Regions from separate parts of the Homo sapiens genome. Here regions 2, 3 and 4 are each reported to be linked to region 1. The links are microRNA targets in miRTarBase. Many come from high-throughput screens and were not tested one by one. Region 1 holds a microRNA gene; each other region holds the end of a gene's coding sequence.
The links. The annotated mature microRNA hsa-miR-4422 reads AAAAGCAUCAGGAAGUACCCA and lies in region 1 at 2,142-2,162, opposite strand. An mRNA with a match to its seed (bases 2 to 7 or 8) in the 3' UTR can be bound and repressed. Matches are read on the target gene's strand: a 7mer-m8 pairs with bases 2 to 8, a 7mer-A1 pairs with bases 2 to 7 and ends in A, and an 8mer does both.

Region 2: the mRNA of SEH1L is a reported target of hsa-miR-4422. Seed matches in the 3' UTR shown: 7mer-m8 at 2,708-2,714 and 8mer at 2,426-2,433.
Region 3: miRTarBase lists SPCS3 as a target of hsa-miR-4422. Seed matches in the 3' UTR shown: 7mer-m8 at 1,478-1,484 and 7mer-A1 at 2,954-2,960.
Region 4: miRTarBase lists PRIM1 as a target of hsa-miR-4422. The part of its 3' UTR that is shown has no 7-base or 8-base seed match.

The regions. Positions count from the first base shown.
Region 1 is chr1:55,224,572-55,227,817 of GRCh38, reverse strand. It overlaps MIR4422 (microRNA 4422), which reads right to left and starts at 2,177; the gene lies at 2,095-2,177. The region is part of intron 1 of MIR4422HG (MIR4422 host gene); the gene reads right to left.
Region 2 is chr18:12,986,569-12,989,814 of GRCh38, reverse strand. SEH1L (SEH1 like nucleoporin) reads right to left here. Exons shown (of 9, transcript NM_001013437.2): 9 at 2,284-2,953. The coding sequence ends at 2,758. Among named protein-coding and RNA genes, the nearest start is that of CEP192, 3.2 kb to the left of the region's middle. RefSeq lists an enhancer at 1-134.
Region 3 is chr4:176,327,734-176,330,733 of GRCh38, forward strand. It overlaps SPCS3 (signal peptidase complex subunit 3), which reads left to right. Exons shown (of 5, transcript NM_021928.4): 5 at 465-3,000. The coding sequence ends at 597. Among named protein-coding and RNA genes, the nearest start is that of SPCS3-AS1, 8.7 kb to the left of the region's middle.
Region 4 is chr12:56,729,097-56,732,342 of GRCh38, reverse strand. It overlaps PRIM1 (DNA primase subunit 1), which reads left to right. Exons shown (of 13, transcript NM_000946.3): 13 at 609-763. The coding sequence ends at 628. Among named protein-coding and RNA genes, the nearest start is that of NACA, 5.4 kb to the right of the region's middle.

The DNA of each region.
Region 1 (3,246 bases):
ATATAATGAATTATACACCTCGACCAAGTGGGATTTACTCCAGGAATGCAAGGTTGGTTTAATATCTGAAAATCAATTAATGCAACACATCATATCAACAGAATTCTTTTAATGACATGATTATCTCAATAGATGAAGAAAAAGCATTTGGAGACAAAGATCCAATACCTTTCATGATAAAAAAATAATAATAAGGAAAAAAAGAACAAAAGAGACCTCTCTCAACTTGATACAGGCATCCATGAAAAACCCACAGCTAACATCATTCTCAATGGTGAAAGACCGGGTATTTTCCCCATAAGATCAGTAGCAAGACATGGATGGCTGCTCTTACCACCTCCATTCTACACTCTACTGGAGGTTCTAGTCAGGGCAATTAGGCAAGAAAAATAAATAAAAGACAACCAGATTGGAAAGATATATTATCTTATATATCATTAATATACAAGATAACAACATGATCTTGCGTATTAAAAATCCTAAGGAATTCACAAAAACTATTATAAATAATAAACAAATTCAGCAAGGTTGCAGGTTACAAAATCAATACATAAAATTCAATTGTATGTTTATACACTTGCAATGAACAATTCAAAAGTGAAATTAAGAGAACAATTCCATTTATAATAGCACCAAAAGGTAAAATATTTAGAAACAAATGTCCTGAAGAAGGACAAGACTTGACCGGGTGTGGTGGCTCATGCCTGTAATCCCAGCACTTTGGGAGGCCAAGGAGGGTAAATCACTTGAGGTCAGGAGTTCGAGACCAGCCTGACCAACACGGTGAAACCCCGCCTCTACTAAAAAAAAAAAAAAAAAATACAAACACCGGGCACAGTGGCTCACACCTGTAATCCTAGTATTTTGGGAGGCTGAGGCGGGCGGATGACCTGAAGTTGGGAGTTCGAGACCAGCCTGAACAATATGGAGAAACCCCACCTCTACTAAAAATACAAAATTAGCCAGGCGTGGTGGCAGGCACCTGTAATCCCAGCTACTCAGGAGGCTAAAGCAGGAGAATCACTTGAACCCTGGAGGCAGAGGTCACAGTGAGCCAAGATCACACCATTGCACTCCAGCCTGGGCAACAAGAGCAAAACTCCATCTCAAAAAAAAAAAAAGTCAGATACTTAATACTTATTACTAAGTATTAGAGAAGATGTGTAGAAATCAAAACCCTCATACACAGCTGGTGGGAATATAAAATTGGAAAACAATTTGGCAGTTCCTCAAAAAATTAAATATAGAATTAACATTTGACCCGCAATCCAAGTCCTAGGTTTATGTCCAAGAGAAATGAAAACATATATCTACACAAAAACTTTTACTTAAATGTTTATAGCATCATTCATAATACCCAAAAGTTGGAAACAACTCAAATGTCCATCATGAATAGATAAACAAAATATCCATATAATGGAATACTATTCAGCCATAAAATGGAATGATGTACTAATGCATGCTACAACATGAATAAATCTTGTAAAGGTATGCTAAGTGAAAGAAGCAGACTCAAAAGATCACATAAGATTCCATTTATATGAATTTTCTAGAGTAGGCAAATCTATAGAGACCAAAAGTAGATTAGTGGTTGCTTATCTCTGGGGGCGTTGGGGGAAACAGGGAAATGGGAGAGTGATAGCTAAAGGCTACAGAGTTTCCTTTTAGGTGATGAAAATGTTCTGAAATTGCCAACAGTGATAGTTGCACATATCTGTGAATGCATTGAAAACTAGAATCGTACATTTTAAATGGGTAAATTGTATGGTATGTAAATTATACATCTCAAGAAAGCTGTTACCAAAAAAAGTCAATACTCAATTAGAGTATTCAAGGTATGAACATTGATGACAATTTTCTGGTTGCCTTTTTTTTTTTTTTTTTTTTTTTTAGAAAAAACAAACATATAGTATATAATGGATATAGATTTGTATCCATCAAAATCCAGTACATTAAATATCATTTTACTTTGCTTTTTCTGAAACTAATTAAAACTCACCTGAACCTTCATTTGCCAAAATATCGAGACATTGAATTACAGTTTTAATTAGGGCTCCCCCACTTACCTTCCAGGAGGATTTATTCAGGTTGCAGGGCTCCTCTGCAATCAAGAGCATCAAGAAGGGCCCACTGGTACATGGTGGGTACTTCCTGATGCTTTTGTCTGCAGAAGAACTGGTTAACTGGTTAATACTGGTTAACAGTGAAAGGACAACAGTCTAAGCTTGCATAGGCTAAAGTACTTTGAGGAAAGGTGGTTCTGGGGCTCCTCTGCCCTGCCCTGCTAGAGACTGAGGGATTTTCTGAGACTAGAAGTCCTGGGACCCAACCAGTCACTTCTCTTTGAGCTCTTTCTACTCCCCTGGCCACTGTGAGCCAGCAATACAGATCAGCTTGCTTAAGACCATCCCTCCTACTGAGAACAACTAGAAAAGCTGGGAAGAATACAGGAAATACCAGTTTGAAGGCACTGGAAAGTTTCTAAGAAAACGTGAACTCAAAGGACCAATCCCAAAGAGAAAGGAAGTACAGAGAGGTGAACCCATCATTTGGTATTGCTTTTCCTTTAATGTTTTTGCTGATTCCTAATCAGCAACTGAGAAGCCCAAAAGCTGAAGAGAGCTTACAGGGCTGAGATGACAAGAATTGGAGATCAGGAGCCATTAAAGAGGAGGTACTCTGGTAAGCACCATAGGATTTCATTTGATATGGTAATATGTTACATAGCTGGCTGCTAGTGAACCAAACCTTCCAGGATTTATGCCTATGGGTGGTCCTCTTCACATTGGTTTCGGGCTTAGCCATATAATTTGTTTTCTTTTGTTTGTGTCTTGAGAGATGGGGGTCTGGCTACATTGCCCAGGCTGGAGTGCAGTATTCACAGGTGTGATCATAGCACACTCCCTCCTCAATCTCCTGGCCTCAAGCAACCCTCCTGTCTCAGCCTCCTGAGTAGGTGAGAGTACAGGTGTACACCACTGCATCTGGCTTATGTGATTTGTTTTTATCAATAGTACATTAGTAAAGGTGAAACAAACAAAGATTAAATATGAACTTGCTCACTGGGACTTGTACTTTTGGATTTCTCCCTGTTAGAATCTAGCCTCCATGCTTAAGTCAAGGTTATCCCAGTGGAGAAATAGGCCATGTGGAGAGGCCCTCGGGGATGGAATATTGTATAGAGATGCCATGTGAAAACTTACTAAAATGCCCCAGCCAAGTGCCCAGCTGAATGCAGCTTTACGA
Region 2 (3,246 bases), not on the chromosome of region 1:
TCTTAACCTCTTTTTCTACAAAGCGGTCACACATTGGAGGTGAACTGCTTAAATGTGTCTACAGGTTCCGGACTGTCACTCACACCAGATCCTTGTTAATAAATGTCCTTCCTCCATAAATATCCTCAAGTCACCACAGCACTCCCCACAACACTCAGTAACCTGATAGGACTCTATTAACAGAGATCTCTGATTCAGAGTCTCGGCAGCAGGAGAGCCTGGACTCTGACGCCAGGCTGCCTGGATCTGAATCCTGGCTCTACCTCCCTCTTCCAAACTGTGTAGCCTTGGGCAAGTAGCTTTAACCAGCCGGTTTCCTTGTCTGTAAAGTGGGGATAATTAAAGCGCTTGCCTCAGAGGCTTACTGTGAGGATTTAAAGCTACTTCTGTAAGGTATCTAGAAAAATAATGGCCCATGGAAATACTCAACAAACATTAGCTATTATCTTATACCTCAGTATCTCACCTCACTTGCCAACTGGAAAGGAGGAACAGAACTCCCACTGTGATTTCCAAATCTCTTTAGACACTGAGTAGAGCCTGCAGAGGCCCCATGACCAGGGTGCCTCCCAGGGAATTAGAAGTGAGGCCTATCCAGTTTTAAGTTCAGACATCTCTCAGCTCCCCTTTTACCAACTGCTTAAAGTGGTATGCCTCAGCCAATACTCAAAACCTTCTACAATGTAACCACAAGGTATGATTTCAGGTTAATGTCCCAGTAGTTCCCTAAATGAACCCTACTCTTTCATCAGACTGTTACTTATATCCTATTCCGTAAACACACCCCGGCCCTCTTTTACCTATTGAAATCAGACATCCCTTCCAAATTCTGCCAGCTCAAATAACTTGTCTCTTTTATGCCTACTATACAATTTCTACCATTATTACAAAGCTGAACCCATTACCTTTTGTAAATTCTAAAAATGCCTTCTCCCACGAGTGTAAGTTTGTGTGCAGACTACCTATTTTTCTACATACCCCAGTGTTTGGCACAGTATCTTGCACATGGTAGATGCTCAGGATTCACTAAATTAAACTGGAGAATGGTCTCAATTTCATTATTCCATTCTTACCCAAGGTACCTCTATGTCTGAAAGCTCAAAGACATGGCTTCTTAATTCTGGGTTAGATTCAGCATTAAGACTTCTTGTTTGATCCTCCATAAGGCTACAAGCCTAGCAAGTCATTTAACCAGAGGAAGACCTTTGAGAATTATTTGAAAAAGATATTTACATTGAAATGCTAACTTTAGAGACAAAACACTTTGATTATTAGACAATAAAACTCAAATGTTCCTTAAACTAAAATGAATAGGCTAGGTGAGGTGACTCATGCCTGTAATCCCAGCACTTTGGGAGGCCAAGGTGGGATGATGGATTGAGCCTAGGAGTTTGAGACCAGCCTGGGCAAAAAGTGAGACCCCTCACTAAAAAAAAATTTTAAAAAAATAGCCAGGGCATGGTGGCGTGCACCAGCAGTCCCAGCTACTCAAGAGACTGAGGTGGGGGGATCGCTTGAGCCCGGAAGTTCAAGGCTGCAGTGAGCCATGATCATGCCACTACACTCTAGCCTGGGCAACAGGGTGAGACACTGTCTTAAAAAATAAAAAATAAAATAAAATGAACAGAATCTTTCTATCAGCTCTTAATCCTTTGCATATTAAGAAGTACTAGAGCTATGACACTATTCAAGGAAAGGCGTCTTTGAAAATTAGAATAGTTATAATAACTATGTCACCTATGTGATTACCTGATATTTCATGTAATCTGTTACATGAAATACTGTTCAAAACACCTCTCTCTCTAGCCCTGATAAGAGGTTAAACCCTTGACAATTCCTGACAAAACTGAACCAACAAGCATATTACTAGTTTTAATCATTTTACCACAATTATAATCAAGTACATTCTCATTTTAAAATATTCTAGAAAATATTCTAATGTTGACTAATTAGACTGAAAGTCAACATCTGTCCATTCTAAATGTTAGTAGTCTACATACTGACTTTCTACCTTTTAAATAAATGTAATATTTGCTCACATCTCCTAATTTTTGTTTGGGTTTTTTGTGAGATAGTGAAAGAAGAGTAAGCCTTGGCAATTATCTTAAATAAAATACATTCTGTTTTTATAAGGCAAGAGATTCGTATATTTTTAAATATATTTTATTACATAACCTACTTGGATAATAATTACAAAAGCTTTAAACAGTAATTCCAAGTAGTGAAAGGCAATTTCCTTTAAAAAAAAAAAAAAAAAAAAAAGACCAAAAAGTCCACATTAGGTTTTGCTGCTTTATACACAGGAATGATTTATTTTACATACTAGTCAGTTACAACATTAGCCTGTAAAATGAAATCCATTTTTTAAGGTCTCATAAGGCAGAATAAACTTCATAATATTATGCTTTCACATTAGCCAGTCTGATAAAGCATAAACAACTTAAGACTATGGTAACAGTTTAAAATAAAATTTACAGAACAGGCACTTTGAAGTCAGCTACTGTGTGTAACTTCACAGTTAACGTTACTTGGACATATCTCATTTCATCAAAGGTTATCACCCAGTGAAGCAAATGTTCCTTTGATGCAGACGCACAAACAGATTTAGGTTCCAAACACTGTATTCTGGTTGTAATACATGCAAGACAGACCCTAAGTTAGAAAAATCTTCTGAAAGAAAATGAAAAACAAAAAGCAGCCAGAAATGAAAGCATTTACAAGCACTTGAATAAGGCCTTTCAATGTTAAATCAGTGTTTTAAATCCCTTCATTCTCAGGTAAGGGATTAAGAGGCCGAGAGAGATATCGTCTGCGAGGGTGAGGATACTGGAGGTTGGCAGTGTCAGCATCGCAAGAGTGCTCTACCAGAGGAGGAGGAGGAGGAGGAAGGAGCTGGGCATAACTGGACCATCTCGATCCAGCCCGTGGGGAATCCAGAGGGGTAAAGAAATACCTGAAACAATGAAGACAGGAACAAAACACCAAACAAAACAAAAACAGGAAAAAAAAAACACAAGAAAAAGAGAAAAGTAGTAAATACAAAGAGAACCAAAGAGGAGAAAACACATGCTAGAAAAAAAAAAAAAAGCTTTAGTATATTCATGCCAAAACTAACAGAACATAATAGCACAAATCAAGACCCTTACTCAAATCAAGATTGCTTAAGCAAGTATAGAAACTTGAAAGGAATACAATCTGTTAAACTTAAAATGTTAAAAAATATATATAAATGTTACAAAGAAAAAC
Region 3 (3,000 bases), not on the chromosome of region 1:
CTAGTGGTAAACATTGGAAATAATTTTAGAAGAAAGCTATTTCGACCAAGCCAAACGTCTGTATTTGCAATGAAAATTTCAGAACATGAGAATTTTGTTAAGGTTTGTCCATCTAGATAATTGACAGAGTTAGGCTTCAAATCATTGCTCTGATTCTTAGCTCGTCTCTTTTTACATTTACTGTTTTAATCATTTAAACTTTTCGGTTGATGGTTCTAACTGCAGCTGTGAGTTTAGATGGGTCATCCTGGGATATCAGTAAATGTAGTGCCCCTGTCTTCTAGCATTGTCCTTGGATTTTAAGTGACATGAGAAAATAGTTCTTTTTGCAGATTAACATATTAGGATTTCTGTTAGGAATAGATGGTTATAAATAAAGTATTTGACATCTCAGTGTTTGTCTTAAAATTTTTTTTGAACTACTAGTGTCTCTGATGACTTGTGTTTATTATATCTTTTTATAGGGGAAACAGGAATGTCACTTTGACCCTGTCTTGGAACGTCGTACCAAATGCTGGAATTCTACCTCTTGTGACAGGATCAGGACACGTATCTGTCCCATTTCCAGATACATATGAAATAACGAAGAGTTATTAAATTATTCTGAATTTGAAACAACATATTTTTATACTTAATGAATTGTATCTCATTAATCTCTTCCCTTACATCTTCATGTATTGTTGGTTTGTTTTTTGGTTTTGGGTTTTTTTTTTTTTTTTTTTGGTATAAGAACTAACATCAAAAGGCCTGTTTAAAGGGAAAGGTTAATGGGCTACTTAATATTATGAACAAAACAAAAAAACAAGGCTGCCACAGTGGAATATTATCTTACAAGAATAAGAACTACATAAAACAGATTTGTAAAAAATACATATTTGAAGTATTCCCTGTATTTCCATTATTCTTTATGGAATATAAAGTAAGCATGAAAGGTAGTTAAAACTTTCAGGTGCCTGTAGAGTCATAATAACTGTATTTTATGCCTTGCATTCACGCAAATTCACATTGGATGTGATTTAAAAGTAGACATTCTCTTTTTCCTCTTTTAGGATATGTTTGATTACTGGAAAATTAATATGGTTATTTGTTAGAAGTCTGGTTTATAAAAAAGCCAAAAGTGATGGAATTTATTCCATTTGTCTTAGGAAGGCCCATAATACTTGTTTTTCTTACATGTGACTAGCAACTTTCTCCACTTAAAGACTAAATACCTCTTTATATGATGTAAATTATTCTAATTCATTTTAAAATCTTTTAGGTCAGCAAAATGTGTGTCTTCAGTGCTTTCTCTAAAAACGTTCCTTTATAGCTTTGTACTTTTTTTTTTAGCGTTGCCATTGAAAGTTAAAATGTTTGCATGGTTTACCCTCTGAGTTATGTTTCTTCTAGTGAGCATGCCTGCTGTCACTAAGTGAATTATTTACTACTTTTTGTAGGTCTATATTTTAATAATTATTGGGATAATAATAATTGTGGTATGCTTTCCATTTACAAACCACTCATATACTTTAGTGTATGTCATCCTCAATAATCTAATGAGGTAAGTAGTATAAGTGTTAGCTCTTTGCAGATAAGAAACTGAAACCCAGAAGTTTATTGAATTGCTTCATTGTTACCTAGCCAGCAAGGAGTGGAATTAAAACTTGAACTCAGATCTTCTAATTTTCTGAGCTCATCCTTTCTCTTATACCTCAGATTGCAGACTAATCAAATTTTACTTAAAACCTTCCTGATATTTTTGTTACCCTGGACACCCTTTCTATTCTAGAAAAGGTTTCCCATTTTATATGGAAGTGACTAATTTTCAAGCTGCCAACAACTTATATCGAGGTAATATTTTATTCTCTGAATAAATTCATTTCACTTATATTAAAAGCATAAGGAAATCTACATGTATGTAAAAATAACTTAGAAATTCAGTACATAATACATGATTGAATACATGATCGTATTTAACATGTTTTTTTTTTCTGCAGTGGACAAATAAACATCCTCAAAGTAGCAACTGCAAATCAGTTACCCTTAGAAAAGCAAGACCAAACACTGTAGTTACACTATTAGCAGTGACCAAAAAGGGCTAATATTTTCTAAGAATAGTTTAAATTACAGACATTTGTTATATTTACCTTATGTGAAATACATCACTATTTAATTACATTAATTTTAACATCTGTTGTGTGGAGTTGTATAGTTCATGCAAAAGCCTGTGGGTATGGGTTTTTCAAACCAGCAGAAAGGTCAAAGGTACCTGAATGCTAAACTGCCTGGCTCCCAGCTTTTTCATTAAACTTTTCAGGGTCTTGGTTTCTTTATCTGTAAAATGACAGAGTTGGACCAGTTAACTTTAATGGCCATCCTTTTACACCACACAAGTTGATAAAATTTATCTGTTCAGCAAAGAGATTGAACAAAAAAGCACGTTAGTAATATGAAGACAGGAAAACGAATGAAAGTCTAACACATAACTCATATTGATTTACTTTATTTCTGTTAGATTTTACACTCTGAAAATTTCACCTCATTTAGTTTGTACAAATACTAGACATGGAAACTTAAAATGTGCAGGTGTCAAAGCTTAAAAATCAGGTGTGTCCTCTTTAAAGGCATGTGCGATAAGCCTGCAGTCTTAACCAGACCTGGTACCAGTTTAACAGTTCATGATACTTCTGTGATGAGTGGATCTGTTAGTCTGGTAGAGATTAATGTTGAAATTTACTTGAATTACAGTTATTTGACAAGCCCACTTTTTTTGGAGTTTGGTGAGGAAGATAAGTAAAAATGCCCAACTAGTACAATGTGGAGAAAGTTTTCTGTTTGCTTGACTAAGGGAAATTGCTCAGAAAAAGAATGCTCCAACATGGGAATAAGGACCTTCAGTCTCAGGAACTCATTTTTGGGTGCAGTTTCTACATTTAAAAAATTGACTTGTGTTCAGTTTGATAACCAGTTCATTTGCTTTAGTCTCAGTGTTTTAAAGAAGTCTCATAATGTTCTACAAAG
Region 4 (3,246 bases), not on the chromosome of region 1:
GGAAAATGTTATAGAAGCCAGGGGAAAGAAAAGTGCAAGATTATCAAGTGTCAGGTACAGTAGGAAACTAATAAAATCCTGCTGCATATAATAACTGGAAAGAAACACAAAGAGGATAGCAGTGTCAAATGAAGGGTACTCTAAATGGGAGACATATGAGCATATGTATAAGCCAATATGAAAAAAATCAGCAGATTGAATATTATTCAAGAGATGAAGGCTACTCTAGAAAACTGTGACAATGTTATAGCAATACAAATTATCTTGCCACTTCATTTTTTATTTAAATATGTGATAGTTTAAGCAGTAGTGCCTAAGATAATGCTCTACTCAGTAGACACTCATATGTGTGATTATTGGATGAACAACAACTCTGAGCTTGGAAAGCCTGGTTGAAGCTGCCATTGCAACTGGCCGTATTAAGTCCTTTGTATCCTCACTGTTCCATACTAGCTCAGCCTATGATGTGGACTTCAGCAAATGTGTAAGCAAATCTTTGTGCATGATGTGTGTTAAATAGAAGCATTAGGCAAAAAAGAATGTAAAAGTAAATGGGCTTTGTTTTGTTTCCTTTGCTGTTCTTCCATATATTATCTATTCTATTTTAGATTTACAAAAAGATTTCTGAAGACAGAGCTCCTCAAACCATTGTGGATATCTTCTGCCTTCAACCACAGATCAAATACTTCAAGAGCCATTTAATAAATATGGCAGAACTATATATGTGTCTTAAACCTCAAAGTAAATTTTCCTTGAGAAATAATTTATGTTGAAAAGATTTCCTGGCCAAGTGCAGTGGCTCACACCCGTAATCCCAGCACTTTGGGAGGCCGAGGCAGGCGGATCACCTGAGGTCAGTAGTTCGAGACTAGCCTGGCCAACATGGTGAAACCCCCGTCTCTACTAAAACTACAAAAATCAGTCGGGTGTGGTGGTGCATACAGTAATCCTAGCTACTTGGGAGGCTGAGGCAGGAGAATTGCTTGAACCCAGGAGGCAGAGGTTGCAGTGAGCTGAGATCACAGCCACTGGGCGACAGAGCGAGACTCCATCTCAAAAAAGAAACAAAACAAAAAAAAAAGTAAGATTTCCTGAGACGACCAAGGAGAGTGTCAAGGTTCCTGGAAGGAGAAATAAAAGGAGGCATAAGTGGATTGCAGATAATTTTGTAAAATTCAATATTCTACAAGGATAATTCTAAGGCTTCTGATATAAATACCCAGTTCTACTAGTTGCCATATATAGAGGTAAGTGAGCAGTAATAGGACTGTCATCTCAGCTCACTTGATACGTCATATGTTTGGGTGAATGATGGTTTTGTCCTTAAGTTTTAGACATTTAATTATATCTAGAGGGCCAGGCACAGTGGCTCATACCTGTAATCCCAACACTTTGGGAGGCCAAGACAGGCAGATCACCTGAGGCCAGGAGTTCTTTTTTTTTTTTTTTTTTTTTTGAGACAGAGTCTTGCTCTGTCACCCAGGCTGGAGTGCAGTGGCACGATCTTAGCTCACTGCAAGCTCTGCCTGCCAGGCTCATGCCATTCTCCTGCCTCAGCCTCCCAAATAGCTGAGACTACAGGTGCCCGCCACCACGCCCAGCTAATTTTTTTTGTATTTTTAGTAGAGACGGGGTTTCACTATGTTAGCCAGGATGGTCTCGATCTCCTGACCTTGTGATCTGCCTGTCTCAGCCTCCCAAAGTGCTGGGATTACAGGTGTGAGCCACCACACCCGACTGAGGCCAGGAGTTCAAGGCCAGCCTGGCCAACATGGTGAAACCCGGTCTCCACTAAAAATACAAGAAAATTAGCCAGGTGTGGTGGCGGGCACCTGTAATCCCAGCTACTAAGAAGGCTGAGGCAAGAGAATCACCTGAACCCATGAGGTGGAGGTTACAGTGAGCTGAGATCACGCCACTGCACTCCATCCTGGGCAACATAAATAAAAATTATAAAATAAATAAAACGTATTAAACTTGTGAAAATACTTGGGACTTTTTATGTATCTAGGTACTTCAGTTTTTAAAGTTTGATTTTGTGAGATGGGTTCTAATATGTCCGATTTCTCTTGCCCTGTTTTACAACTAATCTAAACAAAACAGTCATTCTAGTTTATATTCTGTCTTCCGAGAAACATTGAGAAGCAAGCTGTCAGGCTGGTGCTTTTAATGACAATGAAAATTTTCCTTCCTTTGCATTTCCTTTAACATTGTTTCCTCTACAATCAATCTTTTCTTATCTTCTGGTTTATATGAAACAGACTCTATAATGCAGTCAACACATTGATTCCTTGACCTATATTTTAAGAAAATTCCTGCTGGGTGCAGTGGCTCACACCTATAATCCCAGCACTTTGGGAGGCCGAGGCAGGTAGATCACTTGAGGTCAGGAATTTCAGACCAGCCTGACCAGCATGGTGAAACTCTGTCTCTACTAAAAATACAGACCTGGTGATGCACGCCTATAATCCCAGCCACTTGAACCCGGGAGGCAGAGGTTGCAGTGAGCCGAGATTGCACCATTGCACTCCAGCCTGGGCAATAAGAGTGAAACTCCGTCTCAAAAAAAGGAAAATTCCTCGTTGTTTGGTTTTTTCGTTTGTTTATTTGTTTGTTTTTGAGCCAGAGTCTCACTCTGTCATCTAGGCTGGAGTGCAGTGGAGCAATCCGCCTCCCTGCAACCTCCACCTCCCAGGTTCAAGCGATTCTCCTGCCTCAGCTTCCCGAGTAGCTGGGACTGCAGGTGCACGCCGCCACGCCCAGCTGATTTTTTGTATTTTTAGTAGAGACAGGTTTTCACCATGTTGCCCAGGCTGGTGTCGAACTCCTGAGCTTGGGCAATCCACCTGCCTTGGCCTCCCAGGTGTGAGCCACCTCACCTGGCCCAAAAACTCTTCATTATTTGAGCTTATGTGTACTATAGGTTATTAAGTCTTCAGGTTCTAGAAACAGTGGGTCGATTAAAACTCCTGAATACAAAATTACTAGAGACTCATTATTCCAGAACTAATCAGTAAAGAACTCAGAAGGAGAGTGGAAAGACTGGTATGCTTTTAAAAAGAGACTTTTTTTTTTTTTTTTTTTTTTGAGACGGAGTCTCACTCTGTGGCCCAGGCTAGAGTGCAGTGGCGCCATCTCGGCTCACTACAAACTCCACCTCCCAGGTTCGCGCCATTCTCCTGTCTCAGCCTCGTGAGTAGCTGGGATTACAGGTGCGTGCCATCATGCCCAGCTAATTTTTTGTAT